Linked DNA regions of Homo sapiens. The protein of the gene in region 1 purifies or fractionates together with the protein of each later gene. This does not show direct contact. Each region holds a gene or a part of one and is shown in the gene's direction. Other genes may lie near its edges.

What was found.
Region 2: the proteins of MUSK (region 1) and PSAT1 fractionate together in Homo sapiens (co-fractionation; one large-scale study listed by BioGRID). This does not show direct contact.
Region 3: the proteins of MUSK (region 1) and TMEM150C fractionate together in Homo sapiens (co-fractionation; one large-scale study listed by BioGRID). This does not show direct contact.
Region 4: the proteins of MUSK (region 1) and SLC18B1 fractionate together in Homo sapiens (co-fractionation; one large-scale study listed by BioGRID). This does not show direct contact.

Annotation. Positions count from the first base shown.
Region 1 is NC_000009.12:110,779,511-110,787,354, forward strand, and holds part of MUSK (muscle, skeletal receptor tyrosine-protein kinase isoform 1 precursor), read left to right. Parts: intron 1-5,302; exon of another isoform or gene 5,303-5,304; coding exon 5,305-5,506; intron 5,507-6,016; coding exon 6,017-6,208; intron 6,209-7,844.
Region 2 is NC_000009.12:78,306,604-78,314,447, forward strand, and holds part of PSAT1 (phosphoserine aminotransferase), read left to right. Parts: intron 1-1,810; coding exon 1,811-1,980; intron 1,981-7,844. UniProt on the Homo sapiens protein: Involved in L-serine biosynthesis via the phosphorylated pathway, a three-step pathway converting the glycolytic intermediate 3-phospho-D-glycerate into L-serine.
Region 3 is NC_000004.12:82,557,186-82,565,793, reverse strand, and holds the start of TMEM150C (transmembrane protein 150C), read left to right. Parts: upstream 1-3,805; 5' UTR 3,806-3,888; intron 3,889-8,608. UniProt on the Homo sapiens protein: Nonselective cationic channel with high permeability to Ca(2+). Component of a mechanosensitive cation channel, confers mechanically activated (MA) currents with slow inactivation kinetics. May contribute to proprioception.
Region 4 is NC_000006.12:132,789,812-132,797,655, reverse strand, and holds part of SLC18B1 (MFS-type transporter SLC18B1), read left to right. Parts: intron 1-534; coding exon 535-674; intron 675-6,790; exon of another isoform or gene 6,791-6,871; intron 6,872-7,383; coding exon 7,384-7,479; intron 7,480-7,818; coding exon 7,819-7,844. UniProt on the Homo sapiens protein: Proton-coupled polyamine antiporter involved in the translocation of polyamines from cytosol into secretory vesicles prior to their release via exocytosis.

The DNA of each region.
Region 1 (7,844 bases):
GACTTCCAAAATCCTCACCTCCATGTTTACTTTTTACTGGCTGCCACAAGCTTGAGAATATCCAGAACTGAACACAAAGCACAGAACATGATCTGATCAGAATTGCAATGCAACCATATTTTCTGTGATAAGGCCTTGTTCTTTTATGAGTATAGATTAAACTCATGCTAGCTGTCTAATAATTTCATGACATTAATAGCCCTTCTATACACATATGGGTTTACTGATTTCCTTGATTTTCTAATAAATTTTCTACTAGACCAATCCAATTCATAATTATTTTTATTACATTCTTCTAGCATTTATAATAATTTGTACTTTACATGTTTAGTTACTATGTTCTATGAGGCATAGTGATCCAAGACACTTTTCTTTTTATATGAAGCTCTTTACCAATGTAAAATGTCACTCTTGTCTTGTTTTAGTGCTTTTAGCTTTAAATTTCTAGTATTAATAATGGTAATTTTTTCCTTGTATTTATGTTAACCTAGCACCTCTTTGTTCCTCTTTTATTTTTCTTTTCTTATAAACAACATATACCTGGGTTTACTCCAATCAGATAGCCATTTTCTATTAATAGGAGGATTTAGCCTGTTCATATTTTATATCACAACTGATATACTCTATTTTATCCCTACTATCTTAACTGTATATTTTCTATTCGCTTTACGTTTTTGCTTCTTCTTTTTCTTTTTCTTTACTTGTTACTGGTTATGTTTTCTCCACTGCTAAGTGAAAGTCAGACACCAATTCTTTCTACACATCGCAGTGCTCTATTTATTCTTCATTTCTGCCCACCCCATGGGACTTTCAGAATCTCCAGGAGATCCTCAGACTGCTTGGATCTTCTTCCTTACCTCCCCTGGTACTCTTAGGTTTCTCTTTGCAGAGTGATTCTCAATATTGAGTCTTACCTAGCGAATTAGCCAAGACTCCACCCATCACAGCCCCTTCACATGTATCCTGAAGTTATTTTCTGATTCAATTGTTATTAAGAGTCTCCTCATGTATTTCCTTAGAAGGGAAAGTGTCTTGGGAGACAGAATCCCTGAAGCCTTGTGTGTTATCAAATTGTTTTCTTTTATTTGGGTAGTTGAAAAGTGTATTAACTGGGTATGGAACTCCTGAGTGACATTTCTTTGGGTGGTTTATAGATGTGATTTCACTCTTTTCTAGCTTCTAGTGTTGGAAGCAGGTAGTCTGGTGTGAATTTATTTTTTTCCTGTAAGTAATTTATTCTTTCTATCTAGGCAGAAACTTTTTGATTTTTCCCTTTATCCGTGATATCTGTATGATAAAAATTGTTTAATCATGTGCTATTGAACATCTCTTTCCAACTCCATGATAGGGCTTCATGTTGGGAGCTTGAGATAAGCTATGATGGGAATCTTTATCCCATTGAAATCAGGATGGTAGACAGACCTTTCTAATGCAAAAAGTTGATCATGCTATTCCACCTCGTAAAACACTCCTATAAGACCCTCCATTTGCTGCAGGGCATAGTCCAAATTACTTAAATTGGTATACAAGGACTTTTATCACTAAACCTGATATCTGCAGCTTTACCTATAGATACTCCCCAACTCCAACAATGAAACTTCTAGGTGCACTTTTAGAAAGGCATCACATCTGCTTAGTTCAGATCTTGGTATATGCTATTACTTCTTTATAGAATACTATCTCTCTACCCTGACTCCATTCTACTCTCTTAATTCCCCCATCCCACACACACGTTTGTGTGTGTTTTTTTGTTTTGTTTTGTTTTGTTTTGTTTTGTTTTGTTTGAGACGGAGTCTCACTCTGTCGCCCAGGCTGGAGTGCAGTGGCACAATCTTGGTTCACTGCAAGCTCCGCCTCCCGGGTTCACGCCATCCTCTTGCCTCAGCCTCCCGAGTAGCTGGGACTACAGGCGCCCACCACCATGCCCAGCTAATTTTTTGTATTTTTAGTAGAGATGGGGATTCACCGTGTTAGCCAGGATGGTCTCGATCTCCTGACCTCGTGATTCACCCGCCTTAGCCTCCCAAAGTGCTGGGATTACAGGCGTGAGCTACTGCTCCCAGCCCACACCTTTTCCTTAGTCTGTTCAGGTTGCTATAACAAAATGCCACAGACTGGGTGGCTTATACACAGAAATTTATTTCTCACAGTTCTGGAGTCCAAGAAGTCCAAGATCAAGGTGCCAGCAGATTTGGTATCTGGTGAGGACCCATTCCTCATAGACATAGCTGTCTTCTCCCTGTGTCCTCACATGGCAGAACGGGCGAGGGAGCTTTCTTGGACCTCTTTTATAAGGGCATTAATTCCATTTATCAGGACTCTACCCTTATTCATTTCAACACATGAATGTGGGGGAAAGACACAAAGACTCAGATCATCATAACCTTCAACTGGTTACTGGCTACTCACCATTTATGTTTAACTTACAGTTACTCACTCTAGAAAACCTTCTCAGTATGTCTAAACCTGAGTTAGTGCCAGCCCTGAACGAGACTCACAAGCATCGTGTTCTTACTACTCCTATAATGCTTCTTATATTTTGTTTTATTTCTCCATTTATTCACTTGTGTCTCATGACAAGCAAAGACTTCTCATGTTCACCACAGTGTTCTGGATACCTAACAGTCACTATTGATTTAGTGAATGCATTTACATATGGATGAATGAGTGTATAAACTCCCGTAGTGTTCAGAGGAAAAGAATCAAGACAGAAAATTGGTGAGAGAAAAGATAAAAAGGAAAAAGAATGACGATTCAAAGTGATCCTTTAGACCCAAAGAGATCATTGATGTAGTTCAAGGGAAGATCAGATCAAATCAGAAGCAGTCATCAAGGAATAACAAAACAAAACTATCTTGAAGGAAAGAAACATTTAAATCCATAAAGCAAAATTATTGTTCCAACTATGTCATTTCTTGCATTTTAAAAAAACTCACTAAATCATCATAGATTTTTCTTTTAACATGACAGTAAATTCTACTTTCTGATTCTTTTTAGAAAAACTAACCTTATATTTACCAGTGAAATTACACTACCAACTTTACTAATTACATTATATTCCCTCACATGTTATATATGGTGTGAGATGCTCTGTAAACTCCAAATACAAAAATAGTTATTTCTCCCTATCTTTTAATAATTGTTCCAACTTTATTATTAGCAGAAAGCAAAGCTCGTCAATTTAAGCCACCCCCTACCACCACCACCCACCCATCTTAGATCGAGAAAACTTGGGATGACTCAGTCCAAAGAGAATCAGACTAGCTTTCAAGTCAGTCAGAGAGGAACCTGGTCAGTCTGTTGAGTCCACCACTCCTGTGGTGCCGGATGAGGCATGCTGTCACTGATCTTGCGCAGATGTTTTATTGCTGTGCTGATGTTCTTCCAGTTCCAGGTGCCTGCCTGAGTCACAGTGGTGACCAGGCCTGGCATCCGCAGGCTTCAGAATCACTTGCTTAGCCATTGGTACTCAGGGCATAATCACTGGGTCCACTTCATGTATGACTAAGAAGTCATACATGAGCGTCTCTTGTAGCCTCCAATTTTGCAAGTGCCCTATTTCAAATGCTTTAGGCATCTACTGCCATAAAGGTTTTATTTTGACTTTGTAATATGTTATATTAATATGTCCCCTTCTATTAAATCATTATTCTCTGACTATGATGTAGTCAGTTGCTAATATTTCGTTTAGGATCTTCTAAACTTAGGTTGTATAATCTATGTATGCTCTTTTCTTCTGTGCTAACATTGCCAGGTTGTGATATTGGTATTATAATAATTTCTAAAATAATTTGAAAGAATTTTCTCTTACTGGAACATATTATAAATATGGAAATTTTATCTCTTTCAAGACTAAAAGAATGTCTTTTATAATGTGATGACTTAAAAATCTAGTTTCCTGCCTATGGTAATATTTATATTTTCTAATGCTTCAAATTTGGGGATTAATATGTTCCTATCATTTTCCTTAAGGTGTGAAATATAATAATTACACATTATTTTAATTAACTTTGAATCTGTTATAACTTTTTTATCATTTCTAATTTTCTGTTTGTACCTTTTCTCTTTAATTAAAATTCCATTGATTAGACTACTATATGAATATTTATAAAACCAACTATTGATCTTTTAATTCTATCATTTGTGTTACGTGTATTCTAACTTATTAACTTCTGCTTGTGTATGGCTGTTACTTTATTACCTATTATCTTTTGTTTTCTGTAGTTATTGTTTCTTACCCAAAGTCTTGGGTTAAATGTTCAGTTCATTTACTTTCATTCTTTTTTATCTAGTGGAAGGAGATAACACTATGACTTTATCTTTGAGCACAACTTTGGCTAAATAAAATACACACTATTAAGAGGCTTGTGTCTAATCTATAACTATAGTTACTCTCTAGTTTTTGATCAAAAAGTCATTGATTTTTTTCTTTTTAAAAATGTCCCATTGGATTTTATTTAATCTATTATTAATTGCACTTTGGCCATTAAGTAGATATGCATAATTTCTGCCTTTAAAATTTATTGAGATTAATCCACAAATATTTGAAAGGAAGGTTTATTCTCTATTTTTGGGTACAAAGGTCATTCTTAGCTATTAAAACATTGTTGCTGATTATTTTAAAATACTCTGTATCCCTGTTTTTGTCTTTACTCAATCTGTTAAGAGGATTTAAATGTGATTAATAAGGTTCTTTTAATACATATACAATGGACTTTGTACTCTACAAATAGTGGTATGAGTATGGCATCTTTTGGTTTCCAACAGTAATGCTGATTTTACTTTATACATATCACATCGGCCTTTTAAATTGAAGTTTGACAGGAGTTCAGTTTTTAGATGAATTAACTTCTCATTTGTCTCCTAATATTTTCATTTTTCATCTTCTTTCATGATTTTTCTTCTGTTTGTAAACTGACAGTAAATGTATATAAAAGCTCAGCTCTAGACAATCCTGATGTCAAGTGTAATTATGTGAAAATATTTTATTTGATAATTTCCATGATTTATGTCAGGTCATAGATAATATGATTCAGTATAAATGGCACCAGCCCAAGATCTACATTTATCTCAGAAAAAAAAAACCTATTTCCTCTCTCTGAGTCTCATCTTTAAAATTCTATTATTCTATAAGCTGGATTTACTTACAACTAGACCTTACTGAACTTTATAAATATATAACCAGGGAGAACCTGATACATAAATATATTATTATCATGAAATTTATTTTACTGATTGCTTAAATACAAAAAATTGCTTCTTAAAGGTTTGAGAATGAATGAAATAATTATTCTTTACTTACAGCATTCCCACCAATGACGTCCTCAAAGCCAAGTGTGGACATTCCAAATCTGCCTTCCTCCTCCTCTTCTTCCTTCTCTGTCTCACCTACATACTCCATGACTGTAATAATCTCCATCATGTCCAGCTTTGCAATATTTGTGCTTCTTACCATAACTACTCTCTATTGCTGCCGAAGAAGAAAACAATGGAAAAATAAGAAAAGGTGAGATTCTAGTTTCAGCTAACCATGTGTAGTAATATTTTAAAGCCTTGTGTTTTATGGAGTTGGTATGACGTGAGGAATATATATGACACTGCAACTCTCTAAATATATCCGTAGCCCTGCTTTAAAATTAAGCACCCCCATCATGATCTTTACAAATGTCAATGACTTTTTGGCATGGGATCAAATCAAATGCCCTAGGGTTACTGTTTCACAAAAGGTAAAATCTAAACAATAATTTGGAGGAAAATGGCTATTCCTGCTCCTTGTCTTCTCCTCAGGCCTGTTGCCATTGCTGGCTTGGAGAGCTAAACATTTCTGAGAAAATGTGCCTTTTGACTCTAGACCAAACAAAATATTTTATTGCTCTCAAAACGAAGGATCTTTGGCTGCCTTAGTATAACTTGTTTTCATTACTCTTAAATGCCATATTTCTTAGAATCTAAGTCTAAGTACAAAGATCTAACCTGCTTCTGAGCTCATTCCTGATCTTGCCTGTCTTGCCTGCAGAGAATCAGCAGCAGTAACCCTCACCACACTGCCTTCTGAGCTCTTACTAGATAGACTTCATCCCAACCCCATGTACCAGAGGATGCCGCTCCTTCTGAACCCCAAATTGCTCAGCCTGGAGTATCCAAGGAATAACATTGAATATGTGAGAGACATCGGAGAGGGAGCGTTTGGAAGGGTGTTTCAAGCAAGGTAAAGTTACCTATGGAAAAAAAAACTCCATTGAAATATGTTATGTCTGAAAAGCTACCAAACTATTAGCTTGGTATATATATAATATTAGCTTTATATATATATACACACACATATATATATATATATCAAGCTAATGATATAGTACATATATATGTACACTGTGTGTGTATATATATATACACACACACATATACATATATACACACAGTGTAATATACAGTATTATATAGTATTAATACAATATTATATATGTATTATATGGTAATAATATACTATATAAAATAGTTTTTATCAAGTTAGTTAATTCTGGCCAGGTGCGGTGGCTCGTGCCTGTAATCCCAGCACTTTGGGAGGCTGAGGCGGGAGGATCACCTTAGTCAGGAATTCAAGACCAGCCTGGCCAACATGGCGAAACCCCGTCTCTACTAAAAATACAAAATTGAGCCAGGCATGGTGGTGCACAACTGTAGTCCTAGCTACTCGGGAGTCTGAGGCAGAAGAATTGCTTGAAGCCGGAAGACAGAGGTTGCAGTGAGCCAAGATCGCGCCACTGCACTCCAGCCTGGGTGACAGAGCAAGACTCTGTCTCAAAAAAAAAAAAAAAAAGAAAAGAAAAACTAGTTAATTCTTTACATCATTAACCTTATTTGTATTGCATAATACACTTCAAATCTTAATTTCCCCTCTTTGCTGGAAAACAGTAGCCTATATGGAGATAATATATTTTACTGCACTTAAAATAGGTAATTTATTGGAGATGTAAATGTGTCTTCACTTCTACGATTTTTAAATTATAAGAAATTAGTAATATAGTTCAATAATATTTCCTTTTCAGGAAAGAATTTACCATATATTTTTAATCATAATTTCTTACATTGTTTTAAATAACTCCTTACATTATAATATAATGTATAGATATTAAGTAGATGTTCATGAAATGACAAACAGAAAAGGAATAAAAAGGCAAAAATTTATAAAAAATGAGCTCAAGAAAGGAGTATGTATTAGGGCCAATATTAGCCTATGTATCACCTTTGTGCGAATTGGAATAAAATACCCTTTCTGCTGCATGGATATGGCTCCACAGACACACAGCTGAGCCAGAGAATATGAATTTGGTTTTAATCTCCAACTGGCACTTCGGCCTGGTGCTCTTGGGCAAGACACAACTTAATCTCCACCCATGGTGGCCCTGGCGTAGAGGTTACATGAATAGTGAAAATCTCACACAAACATGTCTTGGAAACCAAAATTTGCAAGGCACCACTTTAGGCTCAATGGAGGGTACAAAGATGAGTAAGCCATAGTTCCTACGTCATGGAATTTAGATTCTGGACAAAGATTAAAAGGTTAGGATGTGGCTGGGCGCGATGGCTCACACCTGTAATCCCCGCAGTTTGGGAGGCCGAGGTGGTCATATCACGAGGTCAGGAGATTGAGACCATCCTGGCTAACACAGTGAAACCCTGTCTCTACTAAAAATACAAAAAATTAGCCAGGTGTGGTGGCGGGTGCCTGTAGACCCAGCTACTCAGGAGGCTGAGGCAGGAGAATGGTGTGAACCCAGTATGTGGAGCTTGCAGTGAGCCTAGATCATGCCACTGCACTCCAGCCTGGATGACAGAGTGAGACT
Region 2 (7,844 bases), about 32 Mb from region 1:
CAGTGCAGCTGCCAGTGAGCAGGCTGCCAGGTGCGAATTCCCAGCTGTTGCAGTGCCTGAGTCCTGCTGTTCCCAGCCTCGTGGTGATGTTTGCCTCACAGGGTCCCACTCGAGTCCTTGGGGAACTACCTGCTTTTGAGAGTGGTTCTTAGAAACGTGTTTGGTCAACAGACGGGGAGAGACTTGTCTTCAAGAGCAGATGCAGATTATCCCGAGCCCAGGGGACCTATGTGAGGGAGCTTCCCCTTGCCTGGTACCCACCTCCAAAAGCATCAACAGGATACCGTTTTATGAGTGGCTTGCCAAGGCAGGGCAGTGGGACTGGCGCTGTAGGTACATGCCCCAGGGTGCGATGCGGGTAGAGAATCTAAGAACAACAGTTGAACTGACTGAGTGGTATTCTGCCTTTTTAATTGGGATAAAATATAACAAATTTTACCATTTAATATAAAATATACCATTTTAACCATTTTTAAATATACTGGTCAGTGGCATTGAGAGCATTCACATTGTTGTGCAGGCATCACCACCATCCATCTCCAGAACTTTTACATCTTCTCAGATGAAATCTGTACATTAAACACTAACTCCCTCTCTCCCCACCGTCCAGCCCCTGGCAGCCTCCATTCTAGTTTCTGTCTCTGTGAATTTGACTACTCTAGGTATCTCCTAGAAGTGAATCATGTACTATTTGTCCTTTTGTGTCTGGCTTATTGCACTTAGCAGAATGTCTTCAAGGTTCTATTGCACTTAGCAGAATGTCTTCAAGGTTCGTCCATGTTGTACTGTGTGTCAGAGCTTCCTTTCTTTTTAAAGGCTGAATAATAATTGTTTAGATATACTGTATTTGGTTTATGGTCTGCTTTTTATTATCACCAGGCACTGGCAATTTTAAATAACTATAAATTACTTTCCCCCACCCCCAACTTCCTGCCAACGCTCAATTTTCCTAAGGGTTTCATGGAGAGAGGCATGGGAGAGGGTTCTGTATCTTGCACAACAGAATTACCTAAAGTACCTTTAAGCCTCTGTTTTCTATAATTTCTTCTCCCTCAGGCAGCTTGTCCCATCCCTTCTCTTTGTCATAACAGTCCCTTTCTCAGCACCTTCTGACTGTTCTTTTATACAAATGTAAATAGATTAAAAAATCTGTTTTGGCCAGGCGCAGTGGCTCAGGCCTGTAATCCCAGCACTTTGGGAGGCCGAGGAGGGTGGATCATGAGATCAGGAGTTCAAGACCAGCCTGGCCAACATGGTGAAACCCCGTCTTTACTAAAAATACAAAAATTCACTGGGCATGGTGGCACACGCTGTAATCCCAGCTACTCGGCAGGCTGAGGCAGGAAAATTGCTTGAACCCGGGAGGCAGAGGTTGCAGTGAGCCGAGATTGCGCCACTGCACTCCAGCCTGGGTGCCAGAGCAAGACTCCGTCTCAAAAGAAAAAAAAAATGTTTCTTCTCTTGGTAACCAGGGAGAGTTAGAGGCCCCACGTTAAAGACTCCTTTCTACTTTGGGGGTAGAAAGGAGGTGTGCAGAGCGAATGTGAATATGTGCCAGGACTTTGCAGTGATGGGCTTGGGTTAGCCCCATCCAGGTGAGGACCAGGCTGACGGATCATCCTCAGGCTTTGGAACTCTGAGTATGGGTTTGCTGTCCACATGGAGATTGCTTTAGAGCATGAACTGCTCCCTACACAGGATAGAGTCATTTCCTTAAAAAAATTGTGCTTCGGGAAGAGTTGGGAAGTTTGCATACATGTATGAAAAATGGCCAAATCCTTCTTAAGCAGCATGTCTTTCTCTTTTTAAGTTTGGTGTGATTTTTGCTGGTGCCCAGAAGAATGTTGGCTCTGCTGGGGTCACCGTGGTGATTGTCCGTGATGACCTGCTGGGGTTTGCCCTCCGAGAGTGCCCCTCGGTCCTGGAATACAAGGTGCAGGCTGGAAACAGCTCCTTGTACAACACGCCTCCATGTTTCAGGTAACTCTGGGAGTCAGTCTTGTGGACCCAGGGAGGGGTCTCACTATTTTTCATCAAAGCGGAGGTTACATTTTAAAATAAAACATGTAAGCCTGGGCGCGGTGGCTCACACCTGTAATCTTAGCAATTTGGGAGGCTGAGGTGGATGGACCACTTGAGGTCAGGAGCTAGAGACTAGCCTGACCAACATGGTGAAACCCTGTCTTTACCAAAAATACAAAATTATCCAGGCGTGGTGGCACATGCCTATAATCCCAGCTACTAAGGAGGCTGAGGCAGGAGAATCTCTTGAACCGGGGAGGTGGAGATTGCAGTGAGCCGAGATGGCACCATTGCACTCCAGCCTGGGTGACAGAGGGAGACTCCATCTCAAAATAAATAAATAAATAAGCAAACAAACAAACAAATAATAAGTAAAATAAAGTAAAGCATGTTTCCAGGAGCCGGTGATCAAATGCCCCAGATATCCTATCAGATTCTCTGCCCAGCTCACCTCTCCCTCTGCACCATCTCTTTACCATTTGATCAGCTTTTCCTCTTGTTCTTTTCTGGGGATGTTGTTTTTTGTTTGGTCTTGGTAATCCAGGATCCGGTGGTTCACCATTAACCCAAAAGCTCTCTATACATGAGGTGCTGTGGCCTGCATCTCAAACAGCCAGTGCAGCTTTGGAGAAGAACTTTCAAAAGCTGGGCCTCCCCTGCCTTCATTTCTTTCTCTGTCGGGCCTGCGGGAAGCTGGCTGCCTGACAGAACATACTGGCTTAAATACCTTTCTGGGTTTTGTTGTTGTTGTTTTTTGAGACGGAGTCTCGCTCTGTTGCCAGCCTGGAGTGCAGTGGCATGATCTCGGCTCACTGCAACCTCCACCTCCCAGGTTCAAGCGATTCTCCTGCCTCAGCCTCCCGAGTAGCTGGGATTACAGGTGCGTGCCACTACGCCCAGCTAATTTTTGTATTTTTAGTAGAGATGGAGTTTCACCATGTTGGTCAGGCTGCTCTTGAACTCCTGACCTCAGGTTATCCGCCGGCTTTGGCCTTCTAAAGCGTTGGGATTACAGGCATGAGCCACCACAACCGGCCAACATCTTTCTGTATTTTAGCCTAATCTGAAGGGGTCCTTTTAGCCTGGCTCTCATTCGCTGACTGGGGGCTGCGTTGCAGCACTTCAGGAAGAGCAGGGTTGCCCTGCCTCAGGATCCTATAACTCCCAAACTTGGGTATTTTGAGAAAATCTTCATGGCTCTTAAGATTTACAATTGCCTAAGAGAGTCTAGTATTTACTAGCTGTGTGACCTTAGGCAAGTCACTTAACATGTCTGTGTGGTAGGTTCTAGAAGTAATAATAGTACCCCTTTCACTGGGTTGCTGTGAAGATTAACATACATATAAATAAATCTGTGTATATATATAAAAATTTTAAATTTTGCACTGAGTACCTGGCACTTGGTGATTGATAAATATTAGCTGCTATGTTGTTATTGTTATTGTGAGTTCTCAGAGCCTCAGCAGGAGCAGACACAAGGGAAGAGCTGGAGTTTGTAGATTTATCTTTCTAGGGCCACTATGATGCAGAATGGTGATGCTTTATGTGTATGACCGTTTAATCCTCCCAACTACCCTAGTAGGTAGCCAGTGTTATGATCATGATTCCCATTTTGCAAGTGAGGAAGCCGAGGTCATATTTTAGGAAGTGGCCTGGCTGGGGTGTGAACCCAGGCCATCTGACTCTAGATCCTGGGTATGTACATTCTGCCATTAGTGCTCTCTCTTCACCAGCAAAAGGATGAGTGTGGATTTGCGTGTGTTTGCAGGATTCTGCCTTAGGAGAATAGTTCACTGTTGGAGTCCAGCTCTTCTCTCAACAGGATTTTCTTGTCTTGGTGGAAGTTCTCTTAAAGGAGCGTAGGAAAGAGGGGGCTCAGGCTGGTGCAGTTAGTGGTTCCATCTGGGCCAGGATTTTGTCAGAGCTTCCCCTCCTCCAGGTGCTGCTTAGGGAAAATGTCTTCTACATAATTTACTATGGAAAGGAAAGAATTTTTTTTTTTTTTGACAGAATCTTGCTCTGTTGCCCAGGCTGGAGTGCAGTGGCGTGATCTCAGCTCGCTGCAACCTCCGCCTCCCGGGTTCAAGCAATTCTGTCTCAGCCTCCCGAGTAGCTGGGAGTACAGACGCCTGCCACCATGCCTGGCTACTTTTCGTATTTTTAGTAGAGACGGGGTTCCACCATGTTGGCCAGGCTGCTCTCAAACTCCTGACCTCAGGTGATCCACCTGCCTCGGCCTCCCAGAGTGTTGGGATTACAGGCGTGAGCCACCGCCGGAATTTTTTTCAATGTTAGAATTCTGGTGAAAATTCTGCTGGGTTTCTGCTTGGTCACACGATGCAGAGCAGCAGCTCCTCACATTGTGTCTCCCACTTTCCTCAGGGGAGTGTTCTGGGATGCACTCTCCTGGTCACCTCTAAACCCTACTGTCTTTTACCTTGGTTGAAATGTTTCTAAAATGCATGGTAGGGATGGGAGTGGGGCTGAGTCTTACCTCCCACTCGCCTGTCTTACCTCTGGGGAAGCACCAGTGGTCACTGGCCAACTGGGACACAAGAACTGGGCAGGCTGAGCGGTGAGGGTGCAGCTGGGGACCTCAAGTGCTGGCCTCCGGGGGAAGGGGCCGAGATGTCAGGCTGCACATGGCAGGTAGAGGTACAGGAGGCTGTCCTTACCTGTTTGGAGATGGGGCCAGGGCCTGCCTTGCAGCTAGAGGAGGCTTTCAGAGGAGCCCAAGACCATCACCCATTTCAGAAGTGAGAAGGTGGGAGGGGGCAGGGAAAGAGTGCTGTTCCTGAACTGTCCCACAGCCTGTAGGCCAGCAAGTTGCGATCAGGGTACAGCTTGGGGCAGGGCAGACAGTCACTCTCTGGTACCTTCTTCAAGGGTTACCTTGAAGAGCATTTTTTTAAAAAGGAATGAACACGGCCGGGTGCGGTGGCTCACACCTGTAATCCCAGCACTTTGGGAGGCCGAGGCGAGTGGATCACAAGGTCAGGAAATCGAGACCAGCCAGACCAACATGGTGAAACCCCGTCTCTACTAAAAATACAAGAATTAGCCAGGCATGGTGGCGGGTGCCTGTAGTCCCAGCTACTCAGGAGGCTGAGGCAGGAGAATCCCTTGAACCTGGGAGGCAGAGGTTGCAGTGAGCCGAAATCACGCCAGTGCACTCCAGCCTGGGTGACAGAGTGAGACTGTCTGAAAACAAAAACAAAAACAAAAACAAAAACAAAACAAAAACCATGCAAGGTTAGAAAATCATTGCTCACCCAATGAGAACAAGCTGCAAATGGAGACATCAAGATGTGTGCAAAATCCCCTCCCCAGTCCGTGATGTGAGGCTGATGGGGTACCTGGAGCCCTTCAGAACTTTGTATCACATAGTAGAGTTCTTGAAAAGGCCTCACTTTTGAAAAGACGCCTTTTTTTTTTTTTCCCCACAGAGTCTAATGACCATAGGCCCTGGGAACTTTGATTTAATTGTGCTGGATAAAACTGCCTTCAAATCGTTGCTCCGTAGCCCTGAGTGATGAACTAGAGTGGAATAAAGAACACACTGCTGTTCTCTTTAACCCTTCAGTAGAACACACTAACCCCAATTAGTGCATAGAGAAAAAGATCCCTAAACTTCCCTTCTGACTGCACAAAATATTTTTTACTTACCATGACTAACTGAATACACAAGCATACGTTTGTTTTAGCTGCAGTATGAGGTGAAGTAACTAATAAAAATACAAAACAAATAGACCATTAATCTTAGGCCACCTGTTAAAAGAATGAGAACAGGCCAGGCGCAGTGGCTCATGTCTGTAATCCCAGCACTTTGGGAGGTCGAGGCAGGTGGATCACCTGAGGTCGGGAGTTCGAGACCACCCTGACCAACATGGACAAACCCCGTCTCTACTAAAAATACAAAAATTAGCCAGGCATGGTGGCACATGCCTGTAATCCAAGCTACTCGGGAGGCTGAAGCAGGAGAATCACTTGAATCCAGGGGGCAGAAGTTGCAGTGAGCCAAGATTGTGCCATTGCACTCCAGCCTGGGCAATAAGAGCAAAACTCCATCTCAAAAATAATAATAATAATAAATAAATAAAAGAATGGGAGCATGCAAATTAAGTTTGTGGGCCTGTTTGGAAGGCTTCACTGGTCCCAGACTACCTTCTCCCAGTGGGATGGGGATGCCTGGAATCCTGGAATTCACAGAGGGGTGTGTAGTGGAGCCAGTTTTGGGAGCTTTCCTCTGGGAAAAGTGCTCAACTCAGTGGCTACATTCACCGATTCCTGAGAAAACTGTGCCATAACATCAACTTCAGAACCTCATCTGCAGAGCTGGAGTCTTAGAACAGCCAGGGAGAGTTTTCCAGGGGACTTTCTGGTGTCCTTTTCTAAGCCCTGGTGCACAGGGACTATTTTGTATTGCTTTAAAAAATTTATAACAGTGATATACTCTTAGGCTGGGTGTGGTGGCTCACGCCTGTAATCCCAGCACTTCAGGAGGCCAAGGCGGGCAGATCACCTGAGGTCAGGAGTTCGAGACCAGCCTGGCCAACATGGTGAAACCCTGTCTCTACTAAAAATACAAAAATTACCCGGGCGTAGTGGCGTGCACCTGTAATCCCAGCTACTCTGGAAGCTGAGGCGGGAGATCACTTGAACCTGGGAGGCGGAAGTTGCAGTGAGCTGAGATCGTGCCACTGCACTCCAGCCGGGGTGACAGCAAAACTCTGCCTCAAAAAACAAACAAAGAAACAAAGAAACAAACAGTAACATACTCTTAGCAAAGACTTGCAGGTGGGCAGAGTCACCAGGGTAGCCACTGTTCACTGCTTGCTTTGTATCCTAACAGACTCTTAACTGGGCATATGCAAATATACAGAGTCATATATTTAATCATGCAAATGGAACTTGAACTTTACCATACAAATTGTTCTGTGAATTCTATTTTTCCACTCCACAATATACCATGGGCATTCTGCTATGTCAGCTCAAATGCCTATTTTTATTTTTTACTTTTAAATTTTATTTTTGTTAGAGACAGGGTCTTGCTCTGTTGTGCAGGCTGGAGTGCAGCAGTGTGATGATAGCTCTCAGAAACCGCAAACTCGTAGGCTCAAGTGATCCTCCCACCTCAGCCTCCTAAGTAGCTAGGACTACAGGCAAGTGCCACCATGCCTGGCTACATTAAAAAAAAAATTTATGGCGACAGGGTCTCAATATGTTGTCCAGGCTGGTCTCAAACTCCTGGCCTCAAGCTGTCCTCCCACACTGGCCGTCCAAAGTGTTGGGATTACAGGCATGAGCCACCACACCTGGCCCTTTTTTGTTTTAAAATATATATGGTGTCCTGTAGAATGGACATACCTCGATTTATTTAATCATTTAATAGGCAGAGTTAGGAACCCTATCCTGTGTGTTTGCAGGTGGCATTTTAGAAATGAAGGCATAAGTCTTAAAAATGTCACACTGGTAGTGGGAAGAATTGAGACCACTCTATAAGCTGTGTAAGCGTTTTAGAGCCCTTGTGTTTTCAAGATTTTAGACGGTATGGGAGTTGAAACATGAGTTAATAAAGAACTGGAAGCCACGAGGGTCCTGTGTTAAGTAGAGCCACAGGGGCTAGACATCAGTGCTCTGCAGAGGGCTGGGTGGGAGGGGAGGCAGGACCTCCTATCCTGTGTTAAGTAGAGTCACAGGGGCTAGACATCAGTGCTCTGCAGAGGGCTGGGTGGGAGGGGAGGCAGGACCTCTTATCCTGTGTTAAGTAGAGCCACAGGGGCTAGACATCAGTGCTCTGCAGAGGGCTGGGTGGGAGGGGA
Region 3 (8,608 bases), on another chromosome or scaffold:
AGGGAAGTGATTTGAATCATAAAATAACAAAAACAAATTGACTGCCCAAGAGAAAGAAAATGAGCAAGAATATAAAATTTCTTTGTAATTCTAAATGTTCTGTAGTGGTTTCAGTTAGATAATAAATTCATTTATATCAGGAAACCGCCCCCCAACTCAGATAGATGGATGTTTGTGCTGTGCACCAGAGTTAGGACATCAGCCTTGTAGAACAACATGGTGTTGAAATTAGGATGCCTCGTTGTGGTTCTGTAGAATGTTGATGTCTCTGAGTATGGATCTCCATTTGACACAAAATTTTACAAAGTTTGTGGCTGGCATCTCTTTCTGGGCCTTACGCTCTATTTCTTCCATGCCCCAGTCTCTAACTCTGTGCTTGGTCTTTCCTCACAGACTGAATCACTTTGGAACATATCAACAGATCATTTAAAGGTACAAAATGAATATTTGTATGCAATTTTTAAAAAGACAGCCAGTTGTGATCAAACTCCTTACCATCAGTAGGACACACATGAGAGTTCTGAGAATAAGAGGAAGAGAGTTCACATATGAGAGGGCAGAACCAAGCTCAGTGGTGTAGGAGTTCTTGGGAACAGGGGGAGTGCTGCAGATGTTAGACAGAGAACCTAAATCCTTCACTGCCAATGGCCATTCCAGAGATGGCCTTTGAATTGGAGGCAGAAGTGGGACAGAACCTTTATTCAATGTCACATTTTATAATGGACCAATGTGACAACCTCCCAAGTGATGCCAAGGCATAGCACATACTCCGAGAGCTAGCTTCCTATAAAAAGGAGTAAGAGGCCGGGTGCGGTGACTCACGCCTGTAATTCCAGCACTTCGGGAGGCCGAGGCAGGCAGATCACGAGGTCAGGAGATCGAGACCATCCTGACTAACATAGTGAAACCTCGTCTCTACTAAAAATACAAAAAAAATTAGCCAGGCGTGGTGGCGGGCACCTGTAGTCCCAGTTACTCGGGAGGCTGAGGCAGGAGAATGGCATGGACCCGGGAGGCGGAGGTTGCAGTGAGCCGAAATCGCACCACTGCACTCCAGCCTGGGCGACAGAGCGAGACTCCACCTCAAAAAAAAAAAGAAAAAAAAAAAGGAATAAGAAGAGGATGTAGGAAGATCCTCACAAATATGTGCTTGCCTCATCAACACAACAATTCCTCACTCTCACTCCCCAAATACTCAGGACCAAGCTGCCTTGGGGCCTTTAATGGTCTTTGTGAGGTAGAAGCAAGTGCTGGCTGGAAGCCTTCAGAGATTCATTTAAAATTCATCCCCCAAAAAATACTCAAAAGAAAAAAGGACAACCGGTTCTGGAAAAGTATTTCAGTCTTACACCCATATATGATTTAAAATATCTAAGGGTATATTGAGTACATGGTGGACAACAAATTTTAACAGATGGGATACCAAGAAAAAGGCACAGAGAAGCCCATGTTTTGCTTGTACTCTCGAAGCTTCGCTCGAACTCTCATGACATTAACAGAATCTGCTTATAGCAACCAACTCTCCTTCATGGCCAGCATTTTAACACACAATTTCAGCTGGTAATATCACTGTCAGGAATGTAATTCATTTTGCTTTTTGGGTTTATTTGGAGGGACATTTTGGAGATGAAGGCGGCGGTGATTTAGTGGTGCTGAGGAATGGCACTGAGCCTGCGATCCTCACAAACTCAAGTTGGTTTTTTTTAGGAAACATAGGCCTGGCTCTAAATGAAAATGAAAATGTTGAAATAAATTAAACCTGGTGCATGGATTCTCAATCCTTCCACAAAAAAATGGGGGAGGGGAAAGTAAGGGCATTTTACAAATTGGGAGCCCTATTCCCAAGAAAGGGAGTGATATGGCATGGCCATGTCGGAATCACCTGCGGTTCTTTGTCAAAATACCTGTGTTCTGGTTTCCCCCGCCACCTCCAATCAGGTTTTGACTCTGGGTCTGAGGTGAACCCAGGCATCATTTTCTAAAGCCCCCACTGGTGATTCTGATGTGAAAACAGAGTACCACTTCTGTGTTTGAGGGACAGCTAATTCTTTGGCTGGATCTACTTCTGAAAGAATGAATTGGAAGATCTAGCTAGAGGACTCTTTCCGTTATTGCAGAGAGAAATGAATGGCATGGGGACAGGGAGTAGAGAGAGGAGGGGTTCATGGATGGGCCTCAAGCAATCTTACCTTTGGGGGAGTCAGACCACTTTGAGGGTCTGATTAATGTGTAGTTACTCTCCTCAGAAAAGTACACATAAGCTAATTCCCACAAAATTGAGCATATACTTTCAAGGGAGTCTAGACTAAGATTCAGTTTTTGCTTTTGCTATTTTAATTGAATGGATAACAGTCCCACTCATTAAAATAAGGAAAACAAGAGAAGGCAAGATCCCTGGTCTCAGGAAGCTTACAGTCTAGTAGCCAGGAGAAAACAGTAACAAGAAATCAACATACAGAAAAAAAAAAAGAATCAATATACACATAGTAGACAATAATCACAAGAATTGTGGGGAAGGGAGAGTTCTGGAACCGAACGTTAATTGCAGAATTTGAATATGCTGAATTGGAGAAGATTCTTAGAAACACCTGGTTGGGCCGGGCGCGGTGGTTCACGCCTGTAATCCCAGCAGTTTGGGAGGCTGAGGCAGGCGGATCACTTGAGGCCAGGAGTTTTGAGACCAGCCTGGCCAACGTGGTGAAACCCCGCCTCTACTGAAAATACAAAAATTAATCGGGCATGGTGGCGGGCGCCTGTAATCCCAGCTACTCAGGAGGCTGAGGCGAGAGAATCGCTTGAACCCGAGAGGCAGAGGTTACAGTGAGCCGACATTGCGGCACTGCACTCCAGCCTGAGCGACAGAGCAAGACTCCGTCTCAAAAAAAAAAAAAAAAAGAAAGAAAAGAAAAGAAAAGAAAAAGAAAAAGAAAAAGAAAAAGAAAAAAAGGGAATGCCTGCTTGTGTAGAGACAGCAGTTTAAAGGAGACAGGTGTGCTACGGAAGCCCCCAAAAGAATAGAGGGCAGACTGACAAAGGCCGGTTGATAGAGAGCCACCTGTTGGAGGCCAGAGAGGTTGTGTTTGGAACCCAGGCTCATGATGAGCCTAAGATAAAAATGGCATTGATCCATGCTGCTGCTAGAGGTCACTGACATGGTGCCATGGGGTCCCATGGTAGGTTGGGGGTCCGGGATGGGGGAAGCTGTCAAAACGCTGATGAACACAGTTTATGACGGACTCAGACGAGACCCAGGGAGGAAAGCTGCAAGCTGGCGCTGGGAGGTCGGCCTTGGTGTCTGCTGTTCATTGCCAGGGTCCGAAGTTGGCTCTGTGTTTGTTCAATAGGATGGAAAAAAAAAAACCAAAAACCGCGGGACAGCGCTGAGTGGAGGAGAACTACATTCAGTCAATGGGCATGAAAATGAATTTTAGCTGCTTTGTGCAAAAACCCTAGGTGTGCGGACGAAAGAGAGCCAGGCAGAAGGTTACAACAGGTCAGGAATAAATAACCACCAGGCGGAGGATCCAAGATTCTGTCCTTCCTTTTGTTGGATGAGGAGCGCCAGGCAAACGCGTCCACAAAGGCTTCGGAAGGAAGCGGCTCGCCCGCCCACACCCGGCTCCTGCCCCGGGTGACTATTAGGGGCCCCGGGGGGGTGGCAGAAGCCCGAGACCCAGGGGATCAACTCTCCCCGAAGGCCTAGCAGCGGGGACCCCAGAATAAGTCGGGGGCGGGCCCCGGCGCGGCAGGAGGGGGCCGGGCGGGCGGGTGAGCAGATCCCACCCCTTCCTGAAGGAAGCGCCCTACCCGCCGCTACTGCTGCCGCCGCCGCCACCGCAGCAGGTCACAGCCCCTCGAGGCGACAGCGGCCCCGCCGCACCAGAGCAGGTAGGCGCGGCGCCCCCTCCCCTGCCTGGGCCCGTCGCGCAGCCAGGGGGCGTCCGGCCCGGCCCCGTGCGCAGCCCGCAGGCGGAGACCGGGGACGGCGGGGGCTGCAGCGCGGCTGGGGCGGCTGGGTCCGCCCGGCTGCGGGGCCCTGCTCGGCTGCGGCCCCCTCCCATAGCGTCCCGGGCGCGGGGCCGCCCGCCCGAGCCCTCCGCGGGCGCACGCTCCCCGGCAAGTCCAGGAGTCGGTGCCGGCTCTGCCCCGCGACCTGCGAACGCCCGAGCCGGCGCGCCTCGGTCCCCGCCGCCGCAGTGCCGCCAGCCAGCCCGCCCGCTGCGGCCCCGGCCCCGGCCCCGGCCCCGTCCTTTGACAGGTGTCCCCACCCGCCGCCCCATCATCTCGTTATCGGGTGGACTCGGGTGAGAAGCGACCCCAAGTTTGACCTCCCGGTCCCTGTGCCATTCTCCCTGCACTTTGCGGTTAGCCAGGTCAGGCTGGCTCGGGAAGCAGGGGATCTGGGAAGGAGGCACTAACTTGCTTTGCCCTGTGTACCGCCCTCCACTCTAAATGCACAGTCTTCCTTCCTTTCCTGGGCGCACACTTGGGAAGAAATGGGATTTTTGGTTTTTCGGCGGGAGGCCGTGGTAGGTGGGTTACCTAGGCTCTTTGGTAATCTGCTGCAATAAAAAAGTGATTAGCTTTGGGTTCTGGAGAGAGTCCTTGAGTGGTTTTCCCCTCCTTAAATGAATCAAATGGAGTATGAGAGGGTTTTCCCATTTTAAATTCATGCTCCTTTTTTCTCTACTCATTCCTTTCCTCCACCCCTACCCCCACAGCACTTTATGATGTCCCACACATTTCACTGATCTTTTTGGTCAGGTTTATTCCGGCCAGACCGCCTTTCACGGTTGGGCCAGGATTGTGACCGCATGTGGGAACATAGCTCAGGTAGAATGGAAGTCCATCTTCCCGAGTGAACCCACTCCGATGTCCTACATGCGAGGTCCTGTTGGGGAACCAGATATACCAATGCCATGTTGAAAAACAAAACCAAACAGTTATTGGATCTAAAACAATAACAAAGCCTAAATGGCAGGATCAGTTTCTGCATCTTTCTCTGCTTGAACCAAAGACATTTTAATAGTGCAGGGCTATAACTCCATTCTGGGCAGCAGTTCATCGAAAGGATAGTTGAGTGTGGATTTATAAACTCCATGGTAGCAGTCATTAAACTGACCTACTTAAAGTTTCCTATTTCAAGGAAAAATTGTTAGGCCCATATATGTGACCGATCAAAGAATTTTAGTCTCAGCTCTCATGTATCAAATCCCAAACTTTTTCTTGTATGTGTTCTAGAGACTCCATGTTTCCAGGATTAACTATAGCTGTCATCTATTAATGAGCTAGAAATGTGAGTTTAATCTTCAAGGCATAAGCGTAGGAATTTTAATGGTGTGTCCTTTATACATTATTTAATAAATGTTTTGCAAGTCCCCCAAGTTGGAAGCTCACAAACTGGACATGGTAAATAAAAGGGTAAAGAAGTTTTGCTAACAATAATGACTAGTTGATAGATGTTATGACATTCACAAATATATTAAAGTATTTGAAAAACACTTTAATGCATGTTTATTATAATCTGCCATTAGCTGAATGCAATCTGTTTGGATTATTTAAATTGGCATTTAAGTCTTCAGAGCAATTGCTTAATTCATGCATTTCTTACAAATACCTTTTCCATGTTGCTTTGTGGGGGGATAATTTGCTCTATGGAGTAATTTTTTTTTTTGCGTGAACACAATAATGCGTTCTATTTAGCCTTTGTTGTAGAACTACCACAATCATGTTCACAATGACCTTGCAGGGGTTTTTGGGCTCACTTTATCTGCTTTGCAATTGTCAAGAGAGAAGGCCCTTTGCTTTACACTCTTGTCTGTCTTCCTGCTTTGTCTCGCCTGTGACCCACACCTCTTTAGTACAGTGGGTCAGATTAGCAGGGCAGCCTGGAGTCATGAGAGAGGAAAAGCTAGCTGGACCCCGCAATCTCAGCCATTTGGTTTCACTGCAATCTGGCCATTTGGGATCAGTTCAGTAACCAATTAAGCAAGACAAGCACTGACAAGATAATGTATTACTTCTCAGTCATCCCCTTTCACAGAAGAATCTGTAACACTTAGAATCAGCACTACGGTGTGATTAGGTTCTGGTAAGGGTCCAATGAGATGTGTGCTGAAGTTCCCAAAACATTATAGGGTCCAAGTGTTATTGAATCCAGGTCTAAGTTCATGAAAAGCGTAGGACTAGACACAGGTGTGTAATAAGTGTGTCCCTACTTTTTTTGTTTGTTTGTTTTTGAGGCGGAGTCTCACTCTCTCGCCCAGGCTGGAGTGCAGTGGCACAATCTCAGCTCACTGCAACCTCCGCCTCTTGGGTTCAAGCGATTCTCCTGCCTCAGTCTCCCAAGTAGCTGGGATTACAGGCGTCCACCAGCATGCCTGGCTAATTTTTTTTTTTTTTTGTATTTTTAGTAGAGACGGGGTTTTACCATGTTGATCAGGCTGGTCTTGAATTCTTGACCTCAATTGAGCCACCCGCCTCGGCCTCCCAAAGTGCTGGGAATACAGCCAGGAGCCACTGTGCCCAGCCCCTGTCACATGGGTCCGTGTGAAGAGAGTCCACCAACAGGCTTTGTGTGAGCAACAAGGCTGTTTATTTCACCTGGGTGCATGTGGGCTGAGTCCGAAAAAGGAGTCAGCAAAGGGTGGTGGGATTATCATTAGTTTTTGTAGGTTTTGGGATAGGCGGTGGAGTTAGGAGCAATGTTTTGCAGGCAGGGGGTGGATCTCACAAAGTACATTCTCAAGGGTGGGGAGAATTAACAAAGAACATTTTTAGGGGTGGGGAAATTACAAAGAACCTTCTTAAGGGTGGGGGAGATTACAAAGTACATTGATCAGTTAGGGTGGGGAAGAAACAAATCACAATGATGGAATGTCATCAGTTAAGGCTATTTTCACTTTTGTGGATCTTCAGTTGCTTCAGGCCATCTGGATGTATACGTGCAGGTCACAGGGGATATGATGGCTTAGCTTGGGCTCAGAAGCCTGACAGCCCCTACTTATTTTAACTATAAATTTTTACTCCTGGAGCTGATGGTGCCATGTAGCTTTATATTTTTTCATAGTTGTTCTAAGTATTTTAAAACTTGTTCATAAATTATTGGAACTTTAAGTTATTGTTATCACCAAATATCATTTCCTGGTATGTTTAGATTTTTTTTTTTTTCTGGTATGTTTAGATTTTGAAAGACAACTTGTGGCAATGGAAAATCAATCATCATGCAAAGAGATTTTAGATCAGCCATTTAGAATATTTTGAGATAATCGTGAAATCTTTGGCAGTAGCCTTCAAATTCAGCCCCAAACTATTCTGAGTCAAACCAGCTTTGGTAGGTAGGGCTTGAAGCTCTTTTACTAAGTGAGAAATTAATATTTTCCTTTTTGGCATCTATAAACAGCCTTTTCTAGATCAGTGCTGTCCAAAAGAACTTTCTGCATTGATGGACATGTTCTGTAATCTGTCCAGTATGATAACCATGAGCCACATGTGGCTATTGAACGCTTGAAATGTGGGCTAGTGTAATTGAGGAACTGAATTTTAAATTTTATTTAGCCGTAATTAATTTAAATAGCCACATGAGGCTAGTGGCTACCATATTGGACAGTATAGTTCTGAATTTTCTCCCCATATTTCCTAGAGAGATAGCATTTAAAGGCAATTATCCTTTAATTAGAAAAAAAAAAGTGGCAATTGGCATTGATAATACCAGAATTGAGATTTGACTTCATAATCCTATTGCTATGAAAAACCACTTGTGAGGCCACGTGCAGTGTCTCACGCTTGTAATCCCAGCACTTCGGGAGGCTGAGGCGGGTGGATCATGAAGTCAGGAGTTTGAGACCAGCCCGGCCAATACAGTGAAACCCTGTGTCCACTAAAAATACAAAAAAAAATTAGCTGCGCATGGTGGCAGGTACCTGTAATCCCAGGGAGGGTGAGACAGGAGAATCGCTTGGTCCCGGGAGAGGCAGAGGTTGCAGTGAGCCAAGATCGTGCCACTGCACTCCAGCCTGGGCGACAGAGCTAGACTCCATATCAAAAAAAAAAAAAAAAAGAAAAAGAAAAGAAAAACCACTTGTACTTGCTCTGAAGAAGATATTTTGTGCTGAAGTTCAACCCTACTCTAAAAACTGTTTCTCTTTTTAATTTCTATGTGTCTGCTAGCCTCAATAATAAGCATCACCCAGAGTTGTTTAGATGCCTGGCCCCTCGTGTCGGTGTTCATGAACTTGGGCTTATTTGCTCTTTTGCACATTACAGATCATGTATTCTTAGAGTCAGTTTCTGTACGTTTCAATTTTTCAAGGGAGAGGAGGTTCAGAGAAAGGTAGGAAGTAGGTAGTGATGCACAACTCTCGCACTCTTCCCTTGATTACAATCACAGAGACCCTGTGAAAAGTCTGACAAATGGGTACCCCTGGCTCCAGGAGCAGCTGAAGCCTCTGCCTCTGTTGGTTTCTGCCCTTCTTGTCTGGTTTCTTTCTCTTAGGTTTCAAACCCAGATCCTCTTGCTCAAGTCTAGCCTGTGGAGATTACCAAATCCACTTAAGGTGTAACCTACCATTATTTTTAGTAAAGCCATTAAAATGGGATTTGATTTAGC
Region 4 (7,844 bases), on another chromosome or scaffold:
AATCTTTGTTTTTTGTTTTTGTTTTTGTTTTTGTTTGTTTGTTTTGTTTTGCTTTTTTGAGACGGAGTCTCTCTCTGTAGCCCAGGCTGGAGTGCAGTGGTGCGATCTTGGCTCACTGCAAGCTCCGCCTCCCGGGTTCACGCCATTCTCCTGCCTCAGCCTCCCGAGTAGCTGGGATACAGGGGCCCGCCACCACGCCCGGCTAATTTTTTGTATTTTTAGTAGAGACGGGGTTTCACCGTGTTAGCCAGGATGGTCTCGATCTCCTGACCTCGTGATCCGCCTGCCTCGGCCTCCCAAAGTTCTGGGATTACAGGCGTGAGCCACCGTGCCCAGCCGAAAGCAGTACGTTTTCAAAACGGCAGTAATGTACAAGGATTGTGTTCCATTTGATCAAATGTGCTATATTCAAAATAGCCCTAAGCTTAGCAAATGATATCTTCAGAGTGCAACATATGTGCACAGAAATCACATTTGTGTACTTTAATCAGTAGTCTCAATTATATGCCTAATTGCTGCATGTTTGCATTCAAGGTGATGATCCTGCAGGAAGTGCAGGAGAGACCCCCGGGTGGCTTTCGAGAGAACAGGTTTTTGTACTGATATCGGCAGCTTCGGTGAACTTAGGTTCCATGATGTGCTATTCTATACTTGGACCGTTTTTCCCCAAAGAGGTAAGACATTTTTAAATCCTTAGGACCTCTGTTTTTTTGTTTGTTTGTTTTTTAAAAGCCTTTTGAATTATTTTATTTTATAGTATATAAAATGTAAAAATCTGCATATAGGACAGATGGTGTATAGAACTCCAGCCAATAGAATACTTCTTATAGAATGCCTGATACCAGGAAAAAAAATCCAGTCAAAAAGAACATCTTCTTGGGAGGTAATTCACCTAAAAGTAGTTGATCTTCTGAGAATTACTTTTCTTACCATGTAGTCTGATTAATCTTTATTTGGTTTCTGCAACTGAAACAAAGGAGTGCACTGAATAACTGAGATTCAAATGTTACTGCAATAGGTCTGTGTTAAGACAGTAACTATTTTCTCGAGGTTTTATTCACATTTTAGAATTAGGACGTTTTGATTCCCGACCCCCCTTCCTTTTTTTTTTTTTTTTTTTTTTCCTTTCGAGACAGGGTTTCGCTCTTGTTGCCCAGGCTGGAGTGCAATGTTGTGATCTTGGCTCACTGCAACCTCTGCCTCCCGGGTTCAATTGATTCTCCTGCCTCAGCCTCCCGAGTAGCTGGGATTACAGGCGCCTACCACCACGTCCGGGTAATTTTTTTTTTTTTTTTTTTTTTGAGATGGAGTCTCGCACTCTCGCCCAGGCTGGAGTGCAGTGGCGCGATCTCGGCTCACTGCAAGCTCCGCCTCCTGAGTTCACGCCATTCTCCTGCCTCAGCCTCCCAAGTAGCTGGGACTACAGGTACCCGCCACTACGCCCAGCTAATTTTTTTTTTTGTATTGTTTTAGTAGAGACGGGGTTTCACCGTGTTAGCCAGGATGGTCTCCATCTCCTGACCTCATGATCTGCCCGCCTCCGCCTCCCGAAGTGCTGGGATTACAGGCGTGAGTCACCGTGCCCGGCCGAATTTTTGTATTTTTAGTAGAGACAGGTTTTTGCCATGTTGGGCAGTCTGGCTTCGATCTCCTGACCTCAGGTGATCTGCTTACCTTGGCCTCCCAAAGTGCTGGGATAACAGGCGTGAGCCACCACGCCCAGCCCCGGCCCCGCTCCATATTCCCTCTTTTGACTTTAATTTCTTATGGACTCTAGCGCCAATGTTTATGCAAGGGAGGAATTCTGATTAATAGGGCCTATTCCTTCTAGGCATAGCCTTTTATATGGTGTTAAGATTTATAGCTAATGACACAGATTCAAAGATAATAATCCCTAGAAAGTCCAACTGGATTCTAGACGTCAATAGGATATAGTATGAAATGAATATGACTGGCTTGGAGTGTAGACAACATATCCATGTGTTTTATTTTGTGCTTTTTGCCAAATCCTTGGCTCACAGTGCAGTGGAAGCTTGTTAGTCCTCCAACTGCCTTTTAAACATGTAGTCCTTCGTTCTGTGTGTTACAAAAGAAGATAAAGTGGCTTCTCTGCTAAAGGAACAATATTGCCATGTACCCATACAGTGCTCTCTGGCTTCTAGTACACATTACCCCTTATTTATCCATTTAATCCCCGCAACAACCTCATACAGAATCTTGAGAATCTCAGCATGTTGCAAATGAAGAAACGGTCTCAGAAGTTGTGACTTGCCCAATTCAGTTCTATTAACTAGAGGTTTAATGAGTCCCTTCTCTAGAGCAGGCTAAGCATGGGATGTGTTAGGGTAGTATAAAAAAATCAGGGAAATGGCTTTCTCTTGTCTGCCCTTTGGGAGTGAAAAAATATGGGAAAAAAAAGGTTCCAATAATTTGGATATCCCTTAAGAAAAGGATGTCCAGAATGTTATAAGACTGTTTTTTTTTTTCTTTTTTTAAATCATTTTCTTCTGGCTTCCCTCTATCCATACTAATGTTATGAGAGCCTAGAAAGAAGAATGGTTAATTCTGCCATACATGGAGTGTGGATAGCAGAAGAAAGGGCGTTACTGAAAGGAACTTTCAGGCTAAATCTAAGTTGGGGCTTTTTTTTTGAGACAGGGTTTCACTCTGTCATCGAGGCTGAAAGTACAGTGGCATGATCAGAGTTCACTGCTGCCTCAACTTCCCAGGCTCAAGAGATCCTTTCGCCTCAGCCCCCTGAGGAGCTGGGGCACAGGCATGTGCCACCACGCCTAGCTATTTTTTTCTATTTTTAGTAGAGATGGGGTTTCACCATGTTGCCCAGGCTGATGTTGAGCTCCTGAGCTCAAGCAATCCGTCCACCATGTTGGCCAGGCCTCTCAAATGCTGGGATTACAGGTGTGAGCCACCGCACCTGGCCTAAGGTGGGCCCTAAGAAGTGTTAATTCTTATGGTGAACAACAGAGATGGAGGTGTTCTAGGTATAGTCACAGGAAGAGCAGAGTGAATGGCATGTTCCTGGGGAACAACAGACAGCTTCTTGATGTGGCTTGAGCCTGGGGTGAAGTGAGGTCTAATAGGAGACAGTGGATCTGAGGAGGCAGGCCTAAGATAGAAAGGAAGGGCACTTGTCAAGGACTTAGTCAGTGGGCAGTCATCAGAGGTGTTTGAGCAAGAAAGAGCAGTCTGGCCAGACTTGGGATTTTTAAATAATAATAATAACAATAATAATGCCAGGCATGGTGGCTCACGCCTGTAATCCCAGCACTTTGGGAGGCTGAGGTGGGAGGATCACCTGAGGTCAGGAGTTTGAGACCAGCCTGGCCAACATGGTGAAACCCTGTCTGTACTAAAAATACAAAAATTAGCCAGGCATGGTGGCACGTGACTGTAGTCCCAGCTACTCAGGAGGCTGAGACAGGAGAATTGCTTGAACCCAGGAGGTGGAGGTTGCAGTGAGCCGAGATCGCCCCACTGCACTCTAGCCTGGGCAACAGAGTGAGACTCCATCTCAAAAAAAAAAAAAATTAAAAAAAAAATAATAAGAGCCTGTGGAATTGAGATGGAGAAGAATTGGAGTGAGTGAATCAACCAGTGAGAAGGGCATTTCCTAGCTCAGCTGGAACTCAGTGAGTGCAACTAATGTTAGTTTCCTCTAAGTGAATAGGGACAAAGGAAAACCATGCTGTGGGTGTGTGCTTTTTAAGTTTTTGATTGAGTTTTGTGCTTATAGGAAATGATGACCAAAGAAAAAAGTCAAGCTTTTAAAGAATTAAAGTTCATTTTATTCAGAAGTCTTACCGAGGACTATAGGCTGAGTATTTCAGTTCACAGTTCATGTACAGGTAGTAGAGACTCAGTACATGCACGGTCACATCAAAGTTTGGGTGTAAGAGTACATCTGGTTATAGATTATGAATGTACCTTTGGTAATAGTTTATAAACGCATAATCACAACCCTGTTAGATGTTATCTTATGTGTAGGAAAAGGCAAAGCTGGGGCATTTATCATTTAAGGAATGTAATAGCTCAGGCAAGAGATGTGGGGGACCATGTGCTCTATCCTGCTCTGTCTTCAACTCATCCCTCCCAAGAGTTGCATGTTGTCACAGAGTCAGGGGTTTTATGACATTATGCTGGCAAGCAGAAGTGAGCAAAATGTGACTTCTTACATTTGCTACTTTTGTCTCGCCTCGCAGAGGGAAGGCTGAAAGAAAGGAGATAGAGGCAGGAGAGAGAACATTCTAACTTTAAAAGCTGTAAATATGAAGAGAAGGCTTTGATTTTTCATTTCTGATTAAAATCTTGTGGTCAACAAATGCATTGGTGAAGCCTCACCCTTCCTCCTGCATGTTCTGTCATTTTTCTTATTAGCTAAGCTAACTGGGCAAAGGAAAAACAGTGCCTTTCTTAAATTATGGTGTGGGATTCCTACTTCTATTCATCATTTTTCTTGCCACACTCATCTTTTGTCAGAGGACCAGAAATTGCTTATTTATTTATTTATTTATTGAGACAGAGCCTCGTTCCATCATGCCCAGGCTGGAGTGCTGCGGCATCGTCTCAGCTTACTGCAACCTCCGCCTCCTGAGTTCAAACAATTCTCCCGCCTCAGTCTCCCAAGTAGCTGGGATTACAGGCGCGCATCACCACACCCAGCTAATTTTTTTGTATTTTTAGTAGAGACGGGGTTTCACCATATTGGCCAGGCTGGTCTCGAACTCCTGACCTCAGGTGATCCACTCGCCTTGGCCTCCTAAATTGCTGGAATTACAGGAGTGAGCCACTGTGCCCGGCCTAGAAATTGCTTTTAATAGCTGTTTTTGCTTTCCTAATGTGAAGCAGGATCCATGTTCCAAAAATGACATTCGGCTGCTGCTGTAGCATGTGGTTCTAGCACATCCTGTGTCAGCATTCCATTTCCACAGCGAATATGGGAACATGCACATGATGGAAACTGTAGTGGCTCATGACCTGTAACCTTTGCAAGTTCCTGTCCTCATCTATAAATGAGGCCAGCTAAAAATGTATCCTTTATTTAATTTAATTGTTGTTAGATACCATGTAAAACGGCACTTAATAAAGAGATTCTGGCTCATAATGAGGGTCTAATAAGTATTAATTGCTATAGGCATTATATATTTTCTGCTAGATTCTAAATTAAATACTTATCAGAACTATTAAGCAAAGAACATTGATAATGCAACTTGACTAATGAATGTCCTTCCTTCCTTCCTTCTTTCCTTCTTTCTCTTTCTTTCCTTCTTTTCTTTCTTTCCCTTCCTTCCTTCCTTCCTTCCTTCCTTCCTTCCTTCCTTCCTTCCTTCCTTCCTTCCTTCCTTCCTTTCTTCCTTTCTTTCTTTCTTTCTTTCTTTCTTTCTTTCTTTCTTTCTTTCTTTCTTTCTTTCTGACAGTGTCTTGCTCTGTCACCCAGGCTGGAGTGCAGTAGCACAATCTTGGCTCACTGCAACCTCTGACTCCTGGGTTCAAGTGATTGTCCTGCCTCAGTCTCCTGAGTAGCTGGGATTACAGGCACGTGCCACCACACCTGGCTAATTTTTGTATTTTTAGTAGAGACGGGGTTTTGCCATGTTGGCCAGGCTGGTCTCAAACTCCTGACCTCAAGTGATCCTCCCACCTGAGCTTCCTAAAGTGCTGGGATTACAGGCGTGAGCCCCCATGCCCGGCACGCATATTTTTCTTATGCGTTAATTGACTCCTTTCACAATACTTTCTTTTTGAGGAACCTGACCCGTGTGTAGTAGAAATGTAGACCTCATGTTCCAGTTGACATACAGCATAACCATTTGTCACAGTGCCATTAAAGGTATTTTAATGAACTCTCTCTTGTATCCACACCATTATTTCCTGTGGTTATTAGTACATGGAAAGGGAATGGCTGGTTATGAAGCCCAAGAATTATGGGCTTAAATCGTGCCCAAGCCATTACCATGGAGCTGTGGGCCCATCCTCTCTGCCCTCACCCACCACCAAGTGCTTAGGGACATTTCTGAGGACTTTTCCTAGAGTAAGAGAGAGATCCTTCCTAAAATTTAGCTTAGAACAATAGAGTTCACTTCTCTGGCTTCCTGTGGTATGACGCTATGAGGAATGTATGGTTTATTTAAAGAAGCATAGTCTGACATGCAAAAAAAAAATCCTTGAAAAAGACAAAGATTGAATGATGATAGTATCTTTACATGGGAAGGGATGGAGAAAATTTTTATCATCAATTGTAGAGAGAAAAGATAAAGAAAGGCAATCATGGTTATAGAGAATGGATGTTGAAGAGTGCAAAAGTATGTGCGCATGTGTGCATTTCTGTATTATGAAGTTATTTGCGAAAATCCAAAGCTCTGCCAAAAGGATGGATCTAAACTGGACTCTTCTGACCATAAATATTCACTGCTGGTACAATGCCTCATATATATAAGACGGTCAATATATGACAGTTCGGGCTTTCCTTTTGTAGTATGCTAAGTTGCCAGTCCTATCTTAAAGAAATTAAACTCATATTTTGATTCCTTAAATTTCTATAGCTAGAACCTGATTTAAGGATTTGCAATAGTTCCGGGACTTGACAAAGTTTTTTAAACTTTCTATTTTTATATGTGAATGTAGTTGTGTATCACAGTAGCATTTGAAGTTCAAAAGAAGTAGATTTATGATAAATATTATCTGTAGCAAATTTTAGGAGCTCCCTGATAGAATAGGCTATAAACATTAGTAACTGTAATTGATGGATGATAAACTACCTTGGCTGTTTCAGGAGAACGTAGAATGTCAGGGGAGCATCTCTCACCTGTGTTGTTGATGACAGGATGGAAAACTGTCTTCTCCAAACTGTCAGGTAATTGGTATTACTGTCAGAAACAGAGACCTAGACTGATTGGGCCTTGGTCTGACCCATGTGCCCACTCATGGAACTTCCTATTCTTGAGTTTGAAGACTGGCCAGTGTTTTTTGTTTGTTTCCTATAAATGTGATACCCAAAAGGAAGTGTGTCTGAATCAGCTGTTTCCTCAGTCCTGTGACTATGCAATAGAGCCCAAATTTCCTTATCCAAGGCATTTTTTTTGTGTTTGTTTATACACTCTGATTCTGACTTTTGCCACATAAAGCTAACAATTCTTTATAGGTATGGTGAGTGAATTATTTTCATGTAAGAGACTATGGTTTACTATCTAAACTATTAATAGTTTCCCTTCCTTCCCCACCCCATTTATTTTAAAAGAATAATCTTTTTGAAACTGATATACAGATAAAGTTCACAAGAAGATGATGCCCTGATCTATTATTTCCATTTTTTCATATTGATCTAATTTTTCTTTGAAACTTTGTTTCCGTTTCTATTACTTAAAGGCTGAAAAGAAGGGAGCCAGCAATACAATTATCGGTATGATCTTTGGATGTTTTGCTTTGTTCGAGTTGCTGGCATCCTTGGTATTTGGAAACTATGTAAGTATAAAGTTCATATGCACATCTTAATTTTTAAAAATTATATGATGGATTATTTTCGTTTACTAGTCTAGAATTTGCATTGATACAGAAATAGCCATCGTTATAGTTTTATAAATTGTGCCAGTGTTGACAGTTCTCTCCTCAGAGTTGATTGATTTTTAACTCTTTCCATGTTTTTAAGCAATGAGTACTGTCACCATATTAAAGAATTATTATAATATATTAACTGTACATGTCTTCCCCTATCCTATATTTGCCAATACAGTGGATTTGTTTATATCAATATAGACTTTCGGAAGTCATAAATTTACCACTCTTCTTTGACATTTATTATAGCTTGTACATATTGGAGCAAAATTTAT